2 separate regions of the Homo sapiens genome follow, and region 2 is linked to region 1. Evidence: fine-mapped expression QTL. A gene starts in region 1. The other region holds a variant in brackets. All regions are shown on one strand. Distances are between the middles of the regions.

The links.
Region 2: its variant is fine-mapped to the expression of EPHA10 in cerebral cortex (GTEx, PIP 0.99). The same link has a PIP of 0.9 or more in prefrontal cortex.

The regions. Positions count from the first base shown.
Region 1 is chr1:37,762,064-37,773,879 of GRCh38, forward strand. EPHA10 (EPH receptor A10) reads right to left here and starts at 3,057. Exons shown (of 17, transcript NM_001099439.2): 1 at 2,898-3,057; 2 at 722-786; 3 at 1-20. The coding sequence starts at 3,003. LOC105378650 (a long non-coding RNA gene) reads right to left here and starts at 5,253. Exons shown (of 3, transcript XR_947192.2): 1 at 5,133-5,253; 2 at 4,428-4,618; 3 at 3,666-3,830.
Region 2 is chr1:37,727,327-37,735,326 of GRCh38, forward strand. It overlaps EPHA10 (EPH receptor A10), which reads right to left. Exons shown (of 17, transcript NM_001099439.2): 6 at 7,931-8,000; 7 at 4,085-4,256. Among named protein-coding and RNA genes, the nearest start is that of EPHA10, 34 kb to the right of the region's middle. RefSeq lists an enhancer at 1-283. The variant T/G (reference allele first, on the strand shown) is at 4,403.

The DNA.
Region 1 (11,816 bases):
ACGCCGCTGATCTCCTCCCACTGGGGACAAGAGTAAAGGGGTGGGCAGCCCAGAGCCAAAGTGCTTCCAGGAGGTGGAGCGCTAGCAGTGACTCCTGCTTTCTCTCTCATGCACCATGCACACCCCGGAAATTGTAAGATGCAGCGCTGGGAGAAACTTTGGAAACAAATGATCCCAATCCTTATTTTTATAGATGGGGAAACTGAGGCTCCAGAGGGAGAGCGATCTGACCAGGTATGCACATCAAGTTAGTGGTGGAGCTAGGAATGGTGCCTGTAGTTTCCTGACTCTCTGACCAGTGCCCTTTGCACTCCACCAAGCTGCTGTTACAGCCCACATCATCCTCCCCTACCCCAAGTCTCCAAGCCTCTTTTAGGACTCCCAGTCTTGCTTGCTGTGTCAATCAATCAACAACATTGCTTGGAGGATCTACTACTATGTGCAAGCCACTGTCCTGTATTAGCTCCATCCAGATGCCACATTTCTGTTCCTAGACAGCCAGTTCTCTCCTCACTTATTCACTTTTTTTTTTTTTTTTGACTGTCTAACTGGCTGAAGACTCAATGTTTTCTAACAGGCCACTCTGGCTTGAAGCCAGGGCTGCTGGAGACCACACACTCTGAGGAGCACTTTTGTCTGATGTAAACATGAGGAGCTGAGGAGACTGTGTCCTGGACCACCAGAGGATCCCTGGGACAGGGAGGGACACTTGTGCACTTACCCCATTACTTGGCAGTGCAGTCCAGCCCAGCTCGGCCTGGGAGGCTTTGGAATCCAGGAGGATAACTAAGGAGAGGGGAAGACAGAAATATCAGAAATCGAGAAGGTCAGTTTAGCAAGAGAGTGGAATCCTTTGGTGAAGTCCCTGTAAATTTGCTGAGAGAATGCAATATGTGACAAATGATATGGGCAAGTTTTTCCCACTCCATACATCCCCAGGAGGGGTGTGAATAGCTCAAATCCAGAGAGAGGTAGCCACAGTCAGTAGGGAAGGAGCTTGTATTCAGTTCCTGGGGCTGCTGTAACATATTACCACAAATTTAGTGGCTTAAAACAACACAATATTTTTCTGTTACAGTTCTGGAGGTCAGAAGCCCAAAGCCACTTTCACTGGTCTAGAGTCAAGGTGTCAGCAGGACTGTTTTCTTTTGGAGGCTCTGAGGGGAGAACTCATGTCCTTACCATCTTCAGCGTCTGGTGGCCGCCTGTAGTCCCTAGCTTGTGGTCCCCTCCTCCATCTTCAAATCACATCACTTTAATCTCTGCCTCAGTCATCACACTGCCTCCTCCTCTGACTCTGGCTCCTCCTGCACCCCTCATACAAGGACCATTGTGATTATTGGGCCCATCCAGATAATCTAAAACAACCTCTCCATCTCAAAAGATCACTAATCACATATGCAAAGTCCTTTTTGTCAATTAAGCTAACATTCACGGTTCTAGGGATTAGGACATTGACATATTGGGGGTGGGGGTCATCATTCAGCCTTCTACAGGGTCCATGGCAAATACTCTAAGGTTGGCTCTCAGATTGGGGGTGGGAGTCAGTGACTCTCCCCAGCCTTCTTAGGTTCCCAAAATTATAGCTAAGAGTCAATTAGAGAGAGAGAGAGAGAGAAAGTGAGTAGTGAATGTATCAGGGGATTCCTGTATATACCCCCCAATCCACTCCTACTCAGGGGCTTTTCTGAGGTCGGTGGTCCCCAGGCATGAAGACTTGAACATTTTTAGACTGACTCCCGGGCCTCTGAGAAAACAATGTGGAGAGATACTGCTAACAACTGGAGAAATAAAATCTCTCTTCTCCTCAGCCAGCCCTTTTCCCAGGGGCTGTCACTTCCACTGCTTTTGAAAGAATGTCTGGGGTTCTTTTATGTATACATCTATGACCCTTCCTACCAGAGAAGCTTGAAGTCCCTTTATTCCCCCAGGAGGCATCGGATCAGCAGCCTGCAACCTCTCAGCATGGATCACAGAAAATGGTTTGGACAGCAGAGTCCGCAGACCAGAGACAGGAGGTCAGGACACCCCGGAGTCTTGGGAGATTACCCTCTGGAGCTTAAACCAGGGGGTGGGCCACCAAGGTGAGGGCCTCTCCAGAGGCGTCAGCGACTGTGGGCAGGACCGCCGACGGCTTTCCGAGATCCGCGCAACTGACAGCACATCGGAATCGCGAACTGGAAGGCATCAGCCATCCAGGGCCCAGACCAACCCCGCGGTCAACGCCTCAGATTCCAGCTCCTCCGGATTCTGCACCTAGATATGACGCCTCTGGATTCAACTGAGCGTATAGCTCCCCTAAATGCACAATCAGAGGCAAGACGCGGGCTCCAGTATCGCCGACAGCCTCAAACCCGGCAACGCGGAGCGCGCCCGGCAGACTACGCTCAGAATTCAGCACTGCGGACAGTTCCATGATCAGCACGTCGGGCAGCGCCCGGATCCAGCCCCCTCGACCAGCATTCCACCTTCTGTTGGCCACACTGTGGTCTCCTAGCCCCTGTAGTCCGGGCTCCATCCCGTCTCCCCATATTCCGAGCTCACCTCCGCATCTCCCTGTCTCCACTCTTCATCTCCCCGCCCCCGCACCTCCCACCTCCAATCACTCAGCTTGTCCGTCTCACCGGCCGCTGGACCGCCGCCTCTGGCTCCCGCGGTTCCTGGCCTCTTTCTTTCCCAACCTCCCGGGTCTCCAGCCCCCAAGCTCCTCAGCGCCCCTCTCTTCGCTACTGCTTGATCACATTTTTCTCTGTCTCTCCAGTTCTTTGCTGCCTGCTTGCTTCAAGCCCCAATACAGACTCTAGTCTCTCCAATGACTCCTTCCCCCAGAACCCCCATCGCCAGCCCCCTATCTTTTGGTATGCCACGCTCCGAGCAGAGCTCACCAGTCTTCTCACCTTCCTCGGCGGTCCCAGGCCGCCAGGGTCCCAAAAGCAGCGCGAGACAGAGCTGCATCCGGCAGAGGAAGAGGCGCAGCGGGTGTGGACCGGCGCAGGTCTCCATGGTCCGCAGACCGAGCTGTCAGTCCGGCGGCGGCTCAAGCCGCGCCAGCCTAGCACCGCTGAGCAATGCCCCCAGACCCCAGAGCCAGCGGGGGGCGGAGTCTCACCGCTCACCATCATCCATGGGAACCAATCACTAGGCACCGCCGCGGGATGCCAACCAATCCCCGCCAGCAGAGGGTGGGAAGGTGGAGTTTCATAGGCCAGGGGCGGAACACCCAACTGGTGGGGAAAGGAAGGGGTCCTGCAGATCTCCAAACCGTGGGGGGTGGGGCAGCTGTGGGAGCTGGCAGGGCTTCTGCGAGAGGGGAATGAGCTGGCATCGGTGGCCCAGAGCGCTAAACCTTAGCTCCTCATTCCTGAGAAGTAGGCAGGCAAGGTGGGCTTGGCTTAAGGAGGGGCGACCCTCGGGGAGGCAGCAACACTTGCAGCCTCTGAGCTAGTCTGAAAGCTCCCTTGTTCCCAGGACTTGCGGGGTTTTGAAGCTTTATGTCCTGACCCCAAGCTCTGGGGAGCTCTCCTGTCTCCCTGCCCTAGGTCTGTTCCTGTGTCTGAGGCTCCCGGTGTCTCCTAGCTCATCCCCCCCTTTCTCTTCCCGCCCTCATCACACACACACACACACACACACACACACACACACACACACACACACAGCGGCAGGAAGGAGGGGCCGAACGATCCCGGGAGCTGCTCGGGAAAGGAGAGCAAAGTGAGGGACGGGGTCCTGCCCTACCAACGCGCTTCCGAGGCTGGGAAACCATGTGGACGCTGGGATGGGGGCGGTGGCGGTTTTGCATGAACGATCGGTTCCTCAGGTTCTTGCTCCTGCTGTCAAGATACAAGCAGCACACCTCACAACCACCCATGCCCTCAGTCTGCTCAGAGTCGGGGGTTCCCCTCTTTGATCACCCCACTCCGCCCACCCCAGGGGACTGGTGAACAGCACAGAGGCCAGGAATCGGAGACATCTGCGAGAGAGGCGGAGCAATCCTGGCAGAGTTCAGCCGGCGCTGAAGAAGCCGCAAGAAAACGTGGAACAAGACCTCTGTCTAGTGAAGGTCATTTATGTGCAAGCTGAGGGTTTAACACTTTGGTGGTGGGAAGGGTTGGGGCCCTCCAGGACGAGGGAGGCGGCTACTGAGCGCCACCATCTGGGCTGAACTTGAGGGGAGAAAGCTCCACCCACCTCGTGGCTTTTCCGAGCTCTTTTCTTGGGGGACCCACCCCCTCTCTATTTGGAAGCGAATATAGCCTGAGAAACCTCGAGAGTGAGTGTGAGTCCTGTGACTACTTGGCCCCTGCGGTCTGAGTGTCTGTGCTTTTGCATATATGTATCCCTCACCCCTCTACCCAGCCCTCACTGGGCGCCATGCTCTGTGCTGCGGATGCCCTGGTGAACCACGCTGTCTCTGCCAGAGTCCATACCTCTTTGAACGCCGAGTGTAAGGAGGATTCCTGGCATCGTAGATCACTGGCCATTTACAACCCGCTTTCATGTGCCATTTCTGCGTGTGTGCTTGTGTATATGTGCGAGTAAATGCACACGTGCCCACTCAGACATACTTGCTGGACAGTAGCAATAGGAGGAGTAGGTGGGAGGAATTGGTCTTCTTTACCTGCAGAAAGAAAGGTCATCAGGAGAGGCTGTGGCTTGGACACCACAGGAGACAAGCCCCCTGAGGAAGCAGAAGGAGGTGTGGCATCCCTCCAGTCCTTGGATGCAGGCGGGACTTCTAAAACCAGACCTACCTGAGGAAGGGTTCTCACACTGCCACCTCCTTTCCATCTTCATTCTCCTCACGCTCGATTTCTCCCCTCCCCCTGCCTCCACCTCTGGGAGATGGTATTTTTAGAAGCTGCTTAGAGACCCAGGACTCCTTTCATTTCAAAATGAGTCCTCACTCCACCACCCCTCACTCCTCTTTAAAACCGGGTTCCATCCCCTTAGCAGGCTCTAAGGCACCAATCATGGCTTCTTACTGAAGCTCCAGGGACTTCAGCCCAGAGGTTCTGACCCTCGGTGCTAAAACAAAATACAGACTTCCTCTGAACCTGACAAGGATCTTTCAGAAACCAAACAGATGGGGGAAATTATCTGGGGAAATCTACATAGGATGCTCTGGCAAATACCTGACTGTTGGAGTCTGGTTTCTACCCTCTTCCACCACACACACCTTCACGCATCTGGGGGAAATTTCCAGACAGAGACCCTAGGAATAGGGGGAAAGAAGAGGAAAAAAAAGGAGTGAAATAATCCTTCCCTTTCTTCCTCTGAGCAATTCATTTACAATAAAACCAGAATGGAGAAGCCCCAGTGAATGCAGATATATGCAAATCAGCTGGATGTTAATAAGAGTTGCTCTAAGGCGGACCCCACTCTACCAGGAAGCCGCAGAACTGAAAGCTCAGTAAAGAAATTCCGGAGGGCCTTAGAAGGAAACCAACCCATTGTTTATCTCGACCTTTAAGTGCTGGGGGCCAGTTAACTAATGGAAGGGGTTAGGTTCCTCCCAGGAATAGCAATGGGGACTAGTGAAATTGGGGGTGGGGACAGAGAAGGGGTATCTGTCTATGGCATTCAACCCTCAGCCCTCAGCAGCTTTGGGCTGCTTTCTGTCTATGGTGCTGAATCCAACAGAGTCTGGACATTCAGTTAGACCTCGGACTTCTCTGCTGCCATGTTCTGATCCTTGGCAGGATCATAAAGAGTAAGTAGTTTTGCTTCATAATCTTAAAGATTTTCTCTGCTTAATTTTCAAAATTAGTAAATTAAATGCTTTATATTTCCTTTACCTAAGAAAATACAGTGGTTGCATCTGCTCCTCCGGCCTATAACCAAAATCCATCAATTCATGTCTTCAGGAGATAAGCACCCTTCACTCCCTTGCAGAAGGGTGGAGGGGCCTGGAACCCACCCAGAAACATCTTGTTTTCTCTTTTGCTCCTCTCAGAACTCTACTGAAGCAGGCTGGAAGGGATACTCCTCTCTACTTCTACCTCACTATCTTCTAGGATCATGGGGAGGACACTTGATGAGGCCGAGCAACTTAATTAAACACCCAAAATAATAAAAAGTGACCTTCCAGGGAGCAGATTTAATGTTACCACAACCTCCATCTCCAAGTTACTGAAAGTTACAAATCTAGGTGCTGAAGATTTGACCTCTTCCTTTTGCACAGATACAGAAAGTATGTTGAGCCTGACTGGACAGAGAAGGTTATCTCCTCCATAAAGAAGTTTAAGTTTGTGTCAGAGGAATCAGGGTCAAGTCCCACTCTCAGGAAGAAGGATGGGGAGAGGCAAAGAGCAGTGAGAGCTTTATTGTTCAAAGGGTCATCTTTTTTTTTTTTTTGAGACAGTGTCTCACTCTGTTGCCCAGGCTGGAGTGCAGTGGCCTGATTTCAGTCCACTGCAACCTCTGCTTCCCAGGTTCAAGCGATTCTCCTGCCTCAGCCTCCCAAGTAGCTGGGACTACAAGTGCACACCACCACAGCTGGCTAATTTTGTATTTTTAGTCGAGATGGGGTTTCGCCATGTTGGCCAGGCTGGTCTCAAACTCCTGACCTCAAGTGATCCACCCACCTCAGCCTCCCAAAGTGCTGGGATTATAGGCATGAGCCACCATGCCTGGCCTAAACTGTATTTTCTTAGATAAAGGAAGCACAAAGCATTTAATTTACTAATTTTGAAAATTCAGCAGAGAAAACCTTTAAGATTATGAAACACAACCACTTACCCTTTATGAGCCTCCACTTCTTTCTTTGTAAAATAGGAACAAAAACAGTTTTCAGAGTTATTGTGAGGTCAGAATATAATTTTTACATGTGACCCAGCTCTGTGCTTGGCACATAGCTCTGGTATATATTATTTTTCAACTCCATGGTTAATTAAGGTAAACAACAACAACAACAAACAAACAAACAAAAAACAGAAGAAAAAAGGAAAAGAAGTCTGGGCACGGTGGCTTACACCTGTAACCACAGCACTTTGGGAGGCTGAGGCGAATGGATTACCTGAGGTCAGGAGTTCGAGACCAGTCTGGCCAACATGGTGAAACTCCATCTCTACTAAAAGTACAAAATAGCTGGACATAGTGGTGTGCACCTGTAGTCCCAGCTACTCAGGAGGCTGAGGCAGGAGAATTGCTTGAACTCGGGAGGCAGAGGTTGCAGTGAGCCGAAATTATGCCATTGCACTCCAGCCAGAGCAAAAAAGAGAGAAATTCCGTCAAATAAAAAAAAAAAAGATAAAGGAAGATTAAGTGGTGAAGTAGGAAGAGAGAAAGATATATATAATTAGAGAGAGAGAGTCATAGAGGAAAAGACAGAATGAGGGATAAAGAAAGAGACAGCTGATTGAGATGAATGTGGCTAGGAAGCACAGGAGTCTGAAAGAAATGTGCTTGAAGAGACAGGAGTGTCATCAGGGCAGGCTGGCTGGCCAGCTGACAAGTGGCATCAGAGGTGACTTTTACCTTGGTAAATTCATCATGGTCCAGGCTTATGAACTTGACTTTAACAGCATTAAGAGAGAACCTATCTATTGGGGAATGGAAAGTAGATCCTACTAACCCAGCTCCTATCCTGCTATCTGAGCCAGAGAAGCAATGTATTAATTTATGATGAGAAATAGAACTGCCAAGGGGACCAGAATGCTCACAATGCCATGTCCAGCACATTCTTTCCCCGTAGGAAAATATGCACAGGAAGCCAATTTATGATGTGAAGACAGCTTTGAGAGTGGGACGGGAGGGAGGTGAATGGTTTAAATATTTGATGGCATCAGGCTCGGATAGCTTTGTGCCTCCAAATCCCCAGAAGGAATAAACCTGCTACTGGCACCTGAGTAACTGTGTAGGGGCCAGGACTGGGATGGAATATACAAATATGTGCTTCTCTGACTCTCTCTCTCTCTCTCTCTCTCTCTCCCTAATACATATATACATACACACACACATACACACACACACACACACACACACACACACATATATATATATATACACATACATATATTTATGTATGTATTAGAGACAAGCACTCTGTTGCCCAGGCTGGAGTGCAGTGGTGCAATCATAGCTCACTGCAGCCTCAACCTCCTGGGTTCAAGCAATCCTCCAACCTCCTGGGTAGCTAGGACTACAGGCACACACCACCATGCTCATAATTCTTTTTATTTTTTCTTTTGTAGAGACAGGGTATCACTATGTTCCCCAGGCTGGTCTCAAAGTCTGGCCTAAAGTGATCCTCCTGCCTCGACCTCCCAAAGCATTGGGATTACAGGTGTGGACCACCATATCCAGCCTTCTGACTCTATATTTTTGTTCTAGCTCTACTTCTGAGCAGCCCATTTTTAGATTGAAGTTCTTTTAAATTTAAATCACCAAAGTAATATAAACTAATGAAAATTGTATAAGTAAAAATATCCATCCTTTCCACTCCAGATAGTCCCCCTCCCAAATTTAAATTCTGCTAAAGATTGATATGTACAATTCCTGATATTTTCTACCCACACACACAACTTTACAGAAAATTAATACATCTATTAGTGTCATAAACACTGTTGATTATTTACCCAATAGCTTTCCCCTTTCATATTTTATATTGCTGGCAGAGTCCCAGTTTTATTTGGATGTTCTTCTACTGTAGTTGTTTGCTAGTGAAAGATGATCCTCTCCCCAAGTTCAGGGATAAGTAAAGATTGCTGTTTGGTAATCATTCCCATCCCATTCCATGTAGTGTGTGATTACAACCCTGGCCTTCTGAATTAGAAATTATAGAAAAGATTTTCACTCCTAATAAACAGAGATGGATGACAGGCAGCATTCCACTTCTTCTCTGGATGTCATGTCTGCATTTGACACCTGGAGCTGCTGCAGCCATTATTACAACATCATGAAGGGGGATATCTCCACATTGGCAGTTAAGATTTTTCAGTCGTGTTTAACAGGAAACCAAATAAAACTGGCTTAAACAAAAATGAGATTGTATTGGTTGATATAATTGGATAGGAGTAGATCTGTATAGAACAGTAAGATTTTGCATTGGAATTCTGGTAGAGTGCAAAATCACCAAACCTGGATACTCTAAAAAAGAATGCAATTGAAATCCTAGAACTGAAAAATATAATAATTGAATTTAACATAGTAGATGGAGCTGATAGCAGGTTAGACACAGCTAATTCTAGGATTAATGATGTGAAATATAGTTTCAGCATAAAATATCTAGTATCAGAAGAGAGAAAAGAATTGAAAATAGGCATGGGCAAGGACTTCATGTCTAAAACACAAAAAGCAATGGCAACAAAAGCCAAAATTGACAAATAGGATCTAATTAAACTAAAGAGCTTCTGCACAGCAAAAGAAACTACCATCAGAGTGAACAGGCAACCTACAGAATGGGAGAAAATTTTTGCAATCTGCTCATCTGACAAAGGGCTAATATCCAGAATCTACAATGAACTCAAACAAATCTACAAGAAAAAAACAAACAACCCCATCAACAAGTGGGCAAAGGATATGAACAGACACTTCTCAAAAGAAGACATTTATGCAGCCAAAAGACAGATGAAAAAGTGCTCATCATCACTGGCCATCAGAGAAATGCAAATCAAAACCACAATAAGATACCATCTCACACCAGTTAGAATGGCAATCATTAAAAAGTCAGGAAACAACAGGTGCTGGAAAGGATGTGGAGAAATAGGAACACTTTTACACTGTTGGTGGGACTGTAAACTAGTTCAACCCTTGTGGAAGTCAGTGTGGCCATTCTTCAGGGATCTAGAACTAGAAATACCATTTGACCCAGCAATCCCATTACTGGGTATATACCCAAAGGATTATAAATCATGCTGCTATAAAGACACATGCACATATATGTTTATTGTGGCACTATTCACAATAGCAAAGACTTGGAACCAAGCCAAATGTCCAACAATGATAGACTGGATTAAGAAAATGTGGCACATATACACCATGGAATACTATGCAGCCATAAAAAATGATGAGTTCATGTCCTTTGTAGGGACATGGATGAAGCTGGAAACCATCATTCTCAGCAAACTATCACAAGGACAAAAAACCAAACACTGCATATTCTCACTTATAGGTGGGAATTGAACAATGAGAACACATGGACACAGGAAGGGCAGGCAACATCACACACCGGGACCTGTTGTGGGGTGGGGGGAGGGGGGAGGGATAGCATTAGGAGATATACCTAATGTTAAATGATGAGTTAATGGGTGCAGCACACCAACATGGCACATGTATACATATGTAACTAACCTGCACGTTGCGCACATGTACCCTAAAACTTAAAGTATAATAAAAAATATATATATAGGTAAGAGAGAAAGAGACATATGGGACATGGCAAAAAGGCCTAAATACATGGAATTAGAGTCCTAGAAAGAGGAAACAGGAAAGAAGTACTATTTGAAAAGAGAGTAGTTGAAAATTTTCCAAAATTGATGAAAGATATCAAGACACATACTCAAGAAGCACTATCAATCCCAAGCAGGATAAATGCAAAGAAAACTACACTTTTTTTTTTTGAGACAGCGTCTCACTCTGTCACCCACGCTGGAGTGCAGTGGTGTCATGTCGGCTCACTGCAACCCTCTGCCTCCCGGGTTCGAGCAATCCTCCTGCCTCAGCCTCCCGAGTAGCTGAGGCACGTGCCACCATGCCCAGCTAATTTTTGTATTTTTATTAGAGACAGGGTTTTGCCATGTTGGCCAGGCTTGTCTCAAACTCCCTACCTCAAGTGATCTGCCCACCTCGGCCTCCCAAAGTGCTGAGATTATAAGCATGAGCCACCACAGTTGGCCGAAAACTGTATTTAAGCATTTCATAATAAAACTGCTGAAAACCAAAGACAAAGAAAAAATATTAAAAGCAATTAGAGAGGGAGAGACACATTACCTTCAAAGGAACAACATTAAGACTGACAATGGTGGAGTGTGGTGGCTCATGCCTGTAATACCAGCACTTTGGGAGGCCGAGGCAGGCGGATCACCTGAGGTCAGGAGTTCAAGACCAGCCTGGCCAACATGGTGAAACCCCATCTCTACTAAAAATACAAAAATTAACCAGGCATGGTGGCACGCTCCCATAGTCCCAGCTACTGGGGAGGCTGAGGCAGGAGGATTGCTTGAACCTGGGAAGTGGAGGTTGCAGTGAGCCAAGATTGCACCACTGCACTCCAGCTTGGGCGATAGAGTGAGACTCTGTCTCAAAACAAACAAACAAACAAAACACACACACACACACGTACACACACACACACACATGAACAACTTTGGTTAGGCATGGTTGCTCATGCCTGTAACCCCAGCACTTTGGAAGGCCAAGGAAGAAGGATCACTTGAGGCCAGGAGTTCAATATCAGCCTAGGCAACACAGCGAGACTCCATCTGTACAAAAAAAAATACAAGAATTAGCCAGACATGATGGTGTGCACCTGTAGTCCCAGCTACTCAGGAGGTTGTAGTGGGGGATCACTTGACCCAGCAGGTTGAGGCTACAGTGAGCTAGGATCACACCACTGCACTCCAGCCTGGGCAACAGAACAAGACTGTCTCAATTTTTTGAAAAAAGGGCTGAGGCCAGGCACAGTGGCTCATGCTTGTAATCTCAGCACTTTGGGAGGCTGAGACAGGAGGATCACTTGAGCCCAGCAGTTTGAGACCAGCCTGGGCAACGTGGTGAAATCCCATCTCCACTAAAAATAGAAAAATTATCCAGGCATAGCGGCATGCCCCTGTTGTCCTAGCTACTCAGAAGGCTGAGATGGGAAGAGAATCATTTGA
Region 2 (8,000 bases), 37 kb before region 1:
ACTGCCTCCCAGCCACAGAGGCGCCAAGGCAGTCCCACTGACCACAGTGGCACCTGGAGTCCCAAGAGCTTCCTCTGCTCTCAGGGCAGAACACCTCCACAGCAGCCCAGCTCCTGCTCAGAGAGGCAGGAGTCCAGACAGGCAGGGCCAGGCCTCCCTCTATGCCTTTCAGATGAGCAGTGAGGGACTCAAAGTTGCTCTGCAGGAGGAATGGCCTCTGCTCTGAGCTCCCTACCCCCAGTCCAGACCATCCACCAACAATAATAAAAAGGGCTAACGGTAACTGCACCTTACTCCATTCAAGACACTGGGCCATGTGCCTACACTATACTGTCTTGTTTCATCTTCACAATAATCCAGGAAGGTATTACCATCTTCATCTTACAGCTGAGGAAACTGAGGTTGAGAAATTACATAATTTGCCCAAGATCACATGGCTAAAAAGTGGTGAACCTAAGATTTGAGCATCACTCCAAAAGTCTCTGCCTGATTCCAAAGCTTCTGCTTTGAACTATTTCTCCAAGAGATCAGCCTAGAGGACCCTCGCTCTCAGCCCTATTCATCGATCTATCCAATCAACCCATCCATCCATCCAACCTATGTGCCTGGTTTGCATTAGTACTGAGGAGAGAGGGGTGAATGGGCCTACGGGTGAGACAGAAACAAAAATCTTAACTGTAGAATGAAAAAAGAAACAGAAATGAGCAGAGCTGAGCAGAGGCACAATAATTTCTTCCTAAAGCCAATGAGGAAGGCTTCACAAAAAAAGGTGCCATCTGAACTGGACCTGGAGACTGGAAGGATTTTTGATGGTGCTTTGATGCACACACTGGGTCTGAAAATGGCAAGTCGTCCCCTGTGTCTGGGAAACAGACTGCATGAAGGCGGAGAGTGGCAAATAGGAAGCTGGAGGGTGGGAAGATGGAGGGAACTGGGGGAGCCAGAACCTGGAGGGCCTTGAACGCTAAGCTAAGGAGTATAAACTTTCTCCTGTGGGTGACAGGGAGCAGTGGAGAGAGTTCCTGCCTAAGAAGAAAAGGAATGAGGGTGTCTGCTGAGGTGGGAGTGAGGATGGAGAAGAGGTGCTTGAGAGAGGTGAAGGTTTGGCATAACTATTAGGAATGGGAAAAGTACTAAGTGGCCCTGAAGACTGAACTGAGATTGGAAAGTACACCTCTTTAGGCAGCTTCCGCGTGGGACACAGGGAGGAGAAAGGTCCAAGTCTGGGGACTAGCAGGTGGGTGCAGCAAGGTGCCCAGGGAATGAGGGTTGGCAGAGTTGGGGAGTATTTCTGATGAGATCATCTGCAGGGGCTGGATAGAGATGGGTGTGGGGCCAGGAGGAGCTAAAAGTCTGGGAGATGAGGTAGGATCCAGTGAGCAGTCTTTCGGATGTCACAGAGCAAGTGAGGAGGAACAGAAGACGAGAGTTAGAAGCCAAAAATGCTAGAGTCAGAGAGGGCATTTCAGAGCCCAGGGTTCCAGAGGCAAAGAGGGCTGAGGGTCTGGGTGGGGATAGAGGGGAATAGAGTTGCCAAGAACTGTTTGAAATGAGGCAACCATGTGGACACAGAAACGGAGAAAGATGCCAGCAGTGGGCAGTCTCTGAGATGGCATCCCTACCTCCTGGTATCCATTCCCCATGAGCACAGGCTGGACTCATTTCTAATGAACAGAATATGGCAAGAGTATTGGGATGTCATTCCCAAGATCAGGAAACAAGATGAATGGCTTCTGTCTTGGGTGCCCTCTCCCTGGCTCACAGTCTCTGGAAGAATCCAGTGGTTGTGGTGAGCAGCTCTAAGGAGAGGCCCATGGGACAAGGAACAGCATGCCTCAGCAGCAGCCAGCAAGACCCTGAGCAGGGAGGTGAACTCTCCCCCAGCTAAGCCCCGAGATGATCACAGCCCCTGAGGACAACTTGACGGCAGCCTTGGAAGAGACCCTAAGTCACTGGCACCTAGCTGAGAGGCACCTATATTACCAATCCATGGAAACATAAGATTATAAATATTTGTTGTTTTCACCTGCTAGATGTTGGGGCAACTCATTACATAGCAATAGGTAACTAGCACAGTGGTGACGCATAAGCGTTCACCAAGACCTTGATTTGGGGCTGGGCATGGTGGCTCACACCTGTAATCCTAACACTTTGGGAGGCCAAGACAGGAGAATTGCTTTGAGCCCAGGAGTTCGAGACCAGCCTGAGCAACATAGCAAGATTCCATCGCTCTTTTTAAAAAAAGAAAAAAGAAAAAGATCCTGCTTTGGAAGGCGGGGGGCAGTGGCTCAAACCTGTGATCCCAGCACTTTGGCAGGCCGAGTGGAGGGATCACCTGAGCCCAGGAGTTCGAAACCAGCCTGAGCAACATAGTGAGACCCCCAAAAAGTAAAAATATTAGCTGGTCATGGTGGCAAGCGCCTGTGGTCTCAGCTACTTGGGAAGCTGAGGTGGGAGGACCACTTAAGCCTGGAAAGTTGAGGCTGCAGGGAGCTGTGATTGTGCCACTACACTCCAGCCTGGGTGACACAGTAAGACCCTACCTCAAAAAAAAAAAAAAATCTCAATTTGGAGACACAGCTCATGGGAAACCACACTCTGCAGATTGGGAGAACCATAGCCAGGGCCACAAGAAGGGAGACTGGGGATCTCAGCAGTCTCTACTATCTGAGAGGTACCCAATGAATGGAGACCATCAGCCCTTCTCCACTGACGGTCCCCAGCTCCTGCCCCCACTACGCCCACTCCAGCCAAACCTGCCCGCCTTTGTTCAGATAGCTTCCTCTCCCCAGAATGCCTCCCTGCCCATCTGTACACATTCAAATGATCCCCAGCTATAATCTTCTCTTTCCAGCACCTGGCCGAGGTCTGACACTTTTTGCATTCAGGCGAGAAGTGTGGTCTTCCTTCCCAGAACTCAGACCCCTTCAGCATTTTATCTTCACTTCCCTTTGGACTCAGAGCTCTTCCTATCTTGGATTAGAGTCATGTAGCAGGTTGGAAAGAATTATTATCTTGACAGCTGGTGCCAGAATGCCTCTTAGGGGGAACTGCCTTTGTTCAGGAAAATATTTTCATGAGCTGCTCAGGGCAGATAGAGGTGAGATCCTGAGGACCAGGTTAGCAGCAGGCAAAGCAACAAGACAGCTAAACTGCTGTGCACACATCAGGGAATTGGGCAGTGGGTGGGGAGAAGAGGAACCAGGGGAGGGAAGTAAAGGAGGAGGGAGGAAAGCACAATATTGCGGAGAAGCCGGAGATGTTTTCAGATGAGGATATTCAATTTCCAGTTTTTGTTTGGTTTTGGTAACAGCTTTATTGAGATATCGTTCGCATACCATGTGATTTACCCACTTAAGTTACACAATCCTTCTTTTTTTTTTGAGACAGAGTCTCACTCTGTGACCTAGGCTGGAACGTAGTGGCATAATCTTGGCTCACTGCAACCTCTGCCTCCCGGTTTTAAGTGATTCTTGTGCCTCAGCCTCCCGAGTAGCTGGGATTACAGGTGCCCGCCACCACGCCCGGCTGATTTTTGTATTTTTAGTAGAGAAGGAGTTTCACCATGTTGGCCAGGCTGGTCTCGAACTCCTGACCTCAGGTGATCCACCTGCCTCAGCCTCCCAAAGTGCTGGGATTACAGGTGTGAGCCATCGCGCCTGGCCGCAATCCTTATTTTTGTGTTTATCACTGCAATGCAACCCCTTCATGTCCATCAACCTTCAGTGAAGTCAGCATCACGCTCTAAGGCCTAGTGGGGAAAGGGACAGTGTCCCATGTTTGGGTCTCTATCCAAACTGAGTCTCTATCCAGCTGAGACATGGGTTATAGCTGTTCACAAATCCCTCTCCTGTGAGCTCCTCCAGGACAGTTTCCCAATCTAATTCACGTCGGTGAACAGGCATTAGTCAGTGGATTTCAAAGTCATTAATTAATTAGGCTGTAATTAATTAAACTGTTCTGCAGGCTCCCTTCATTGCACAGATAACTCCAGATAACTCTCCCCCTCTATTTGTCTCCCTACCTCAGCCCCGTGCAGGGTTCTCTCTGTCTAGGTCCCTGTCCACTCACACACACTACTTACCCTCCCCCAGGGTCTGTACTTCAATGCTGGGGTTAAAACTCTGGGCCTCCCAGGATGGCCCCGGGGAAGCGGCCCGGATCTGAAAGACGTAGCGGGTAGCCGGCTTCAGGTTGGTGACGGTGACTGTGGGCGCCCCTGTCTTCACCATGGAGTAAGTCTGCTCACTCTGACCCTGGAGAGAGATCAAGAAGTGAAGCCCACCAGCGCCAGATCCACTGTTCTAGGAGAACAAAGGGTGAACAGGAACAGGGAGGCAGGAGAAGCGCCCTTACGTGAATGTGGGCTGAGTGCGAAAACCCAACCTCAATCATCTTGGGG[T/G]TTCCCAGGGATCTTTTCCTTGGATCCTTAGCCCCTGTCTTCACCACAAGCACCCACCCACACTCGGTGGCACTTGTAGCTGAGAATAGCACCACCTCTGCATAAGAGAAATTTTAGAGAAGACACCAGATCCTCCTTCCGGGGGATGATAGGATGAGGGCCACCAGGGCCTGTCCATCCAGGCTAAGCTGAGCCAGTGCCCTAGGCAGGCCTGAAGCCTCAAAGGACAGAATGAGAGAATGAGCCCTGACACATGAAAGCCCCCAATGGCCCACAAGGCTTTTCCTTTCCTCGATGTCTGATTTTTCACAACTGTCCTGCAAGGCTCAGAGGACAGAAAGTATTATCTTGTTTGTTTGTTTCACAGATAAGGAAACCCAGTTCAGAGGGGTAAAGACTCCCCCAAGGCCCCAGCTGGAGCCATCACTGATGAGCGCCTACTCAGTGCCAGCTTCTGCATGAGACCCTTTGCCTCCTGTGAGCCTCACAACAGCCCTGTGGAGTCAGCATTTCCATCTCCTTTTTAGGTGAGGTTCACATCAAGGAAGGGGCTGGTGCACCCTCTGAATCCCTGCAGAGCCCGTGTTTTTTGCTCGACATCATGCTGCCCCCCGCTCCACCCCAACACACCTGACAATGGCATACTAGAGATGCTCCTCCCGTCGTTTCGTCCCTGCCCACACCTTATTAGAGGCCCTGCCATATCCACAGCCCCAGAAAGTTATTCTCCCCACTGATATTCGGTGGCTCCAGCTTTCTGACCATAGCATTCAGGAACTGGGACGGACTTTGACCCAAGCTGGGCCAATCAGAATCTCTCTTCCAGGCATCTCAACAATCCATTGAAAGACAGAGAAGCAGTGGCTTCAGGACCCACAAGGTAGGGCAGGCTAGGGGCAGAGAGGAGGAAGGAGCAAGGCTGCCTACCTGGGCATTGGCAACGTGCCGTAAGCAAGCCCCTCTGCATCATGGGCTGGACTGGTGTGCAGAGAGAGGTTGAGATGAGCAGCACTGTGGCTCCAGAGGGGAGCTGCCAGACACCCGCCCAGGTCCAGTGGCCCAGCAAGGCTTCTACTCAGCAGGCTCCATGAGAGTACACTGAAGCCTTTCAAATATAGCCCTTTTATACTTGTTCTTTTTTTTTTTTTTTTTTTTTTTTTTTTTTTTTTTTTTTTTTTTGAGGCAGAGTCTTGCTGTGTCACCTAGGCTGGAATGCAGTGTGGTGCAATCTCGGCTCACTGCAACCTCCACCTCCTGGGTTCAAGCAATTCTCCCTGCCTCAGCCTCCTGAGTAGCTGGGATTACAGGCACCCACCACCATGTCTGGCTAATTTTTGTTTTTTTAATAGAGACTGGGTTTCGCCATGTTAGCCAGGCTGGTCTCGAACTCCTGACCTCAGGTGATCCACCTGCCTTGGCCTCTCGAAGTGCTGGGATTACAGGCGTGCACCACCACGCCCGGACTTGTTCCTTCTTTTTTGTTGTTTTTGGGGGTTTTGGTGGGTTTTTTTGAGACAGGGTCTCGCTCTGTTGCCCAGGCTGGAGTGCAGTGGTGCAACCACTGCTCACTGCAGCCTCGACTTCCCGGGCTCAAGCGATCTTCCTGCTTCAGCATCCCAAGTTGCTGGGACCACAGGCGCACACCACCATGCCTGGCTAATTTCTTTTTTGTAGAGGTGGCGGTCTCACTTTGTTGCCCAGGCTGGTCTTGAACTCCTGGCCTCAAGCCGTCCTCCCGTCTCAGCTTCCCAAAGTGCTGGAATCACAGGTGGTAGCCACTGAGCCTGGCCCTTGCTCCTCTTTTTGAGGGTTTTCATGCCCAACAACCTGGGAGCATCCACCCAGCTCAACCTTGGGGCTCTTGTCTATACCCTGATCCTCAAAGTCCATTCAGTGAGTCCTTTCTAAGCACCTGCTTCCCAGTGTCCTTTGCTGCTCTCCCTAAACATCAGCATTCCTCAGGGCTCTGTCCTGGCCACTCTTCTCAGACACATTCCCCTTCTCATTCCTCTCCCCCAATTTCTCCCCTGGCAGCAGCTACTGTCTCTATGCTGAGAGCCCCCAACACTCTCACTCTCTCTCTCTCTCTTTCTCTCCCTTTCCAAGCCAGGCCTCTCCCTTAAGCTTCAGACCTGCAAGTCTACCTGGGTGTCCCAGAGGCCCCCTGAATGCTAGATGAGCAAAACCAGGTTCATCACCTTGCTCCAAGCCTGCCCTTCCACCTCAGTGCTTCTCCATCTCAGTCAGTGGTACCTCAGACTCTGGGTTACCCAGGTCAGACACCCAGCAGTGACTCAGGACTCTCTCCTCCTTCCCACTCATCCCCAACACTCACAGGTCTCAACAGACTTCCAGTATTCAAAAACTATTTTCAGCAAAGGAGTCCCTCATGTCATTGAGGAGTGAGTGAAGTTCTGACACATGTAGAAGCTGAAAGAGGTTTCACTTCAGTGAATATAATTTGCACCAAGGTGAGAAACAGTTTAACAGTAGTTTGCATATCAGATTTAAAGATAATAAATTGGCCAGGTGCAGTGGCTCACACCAGTAATCCCAGCACTTTGGGAGGCTAAGGCGGGTGGATCACCTGAGGTCAGGAGATATAGACCAGCCTGGCCAACACGATGAAACCTCGTCTCTACTAAAAATACAAAAATGAGCTGTGTGTAGTTGTGCATGCCTGTAATCCCAGCTACTTGGGAGGCTGAAGCAGGAGAATCACTTGAACCTGGGAGACGGAGGTTGCAGTGAGCCGAGATCATGTCACTGCACTCCAGCCTGGGTGACAAGAATGAAACTCTGTCTCAAAATAAATAAATAAATAAATAAATAATAAAGGTAATAAACTTACGGGGAAAAGAGCAGATTGGGATGTGACTCCATTTGTTACATCACAGCTAAGCTGCAACCACAGATTGACAATGGATACAAGAGGTCAGCAAAAATCAGCACAAGTATCCTATGGGGATCAATTGGCCATATGGAGTTCACAATCAAGAGTTCTGAACATATTTTATTATCACTGTAAATGCTGTGCTACACTTTTTTATATGACTGGAATTATAATAACTCATACATTTATTGTTCTGGAAAGCTGGCTGTTAAATATCTACCAGCACACCACCACACCCAGCAATGTGCTCCATGGTCAGGCACTTTTGTAAAATTAGAAATGATATGATCTTTCTGTGTCCTTTTTCTTTAAAAGGGCTCTACAAATGATACGTATAAGATTCAGCCACACAAAATCTGGACCGGGCCCCAGAGAAAGCTCTTTGTCAACCGAAACACTAGGTGACATGGGGACAATGGAGATGGTTGGTGTTGGAGATAGACCTGAGCGGAGGGAGGAAGAGCAGGAGTCCGGGGGAGGAGGGGGAGACTCGAGCCTGGGGCCCCTAGGAGACGGGTGGTTATGTTTACAAAGGGAGTAACGAGGGCTTTTGCTGGGAGGATGGCCTGAAGAACCAGAAGCCCTGCGGGACAGGTGCGGGGCAGGCTCCAGGTCCCTCCCAGACACGCACTCACCTTCTCGTAGTATCGGATCTCGTACTCCGTGTCATTGGCCCCAGGGGCTCCGGCAGGGATGGGCTCCCGC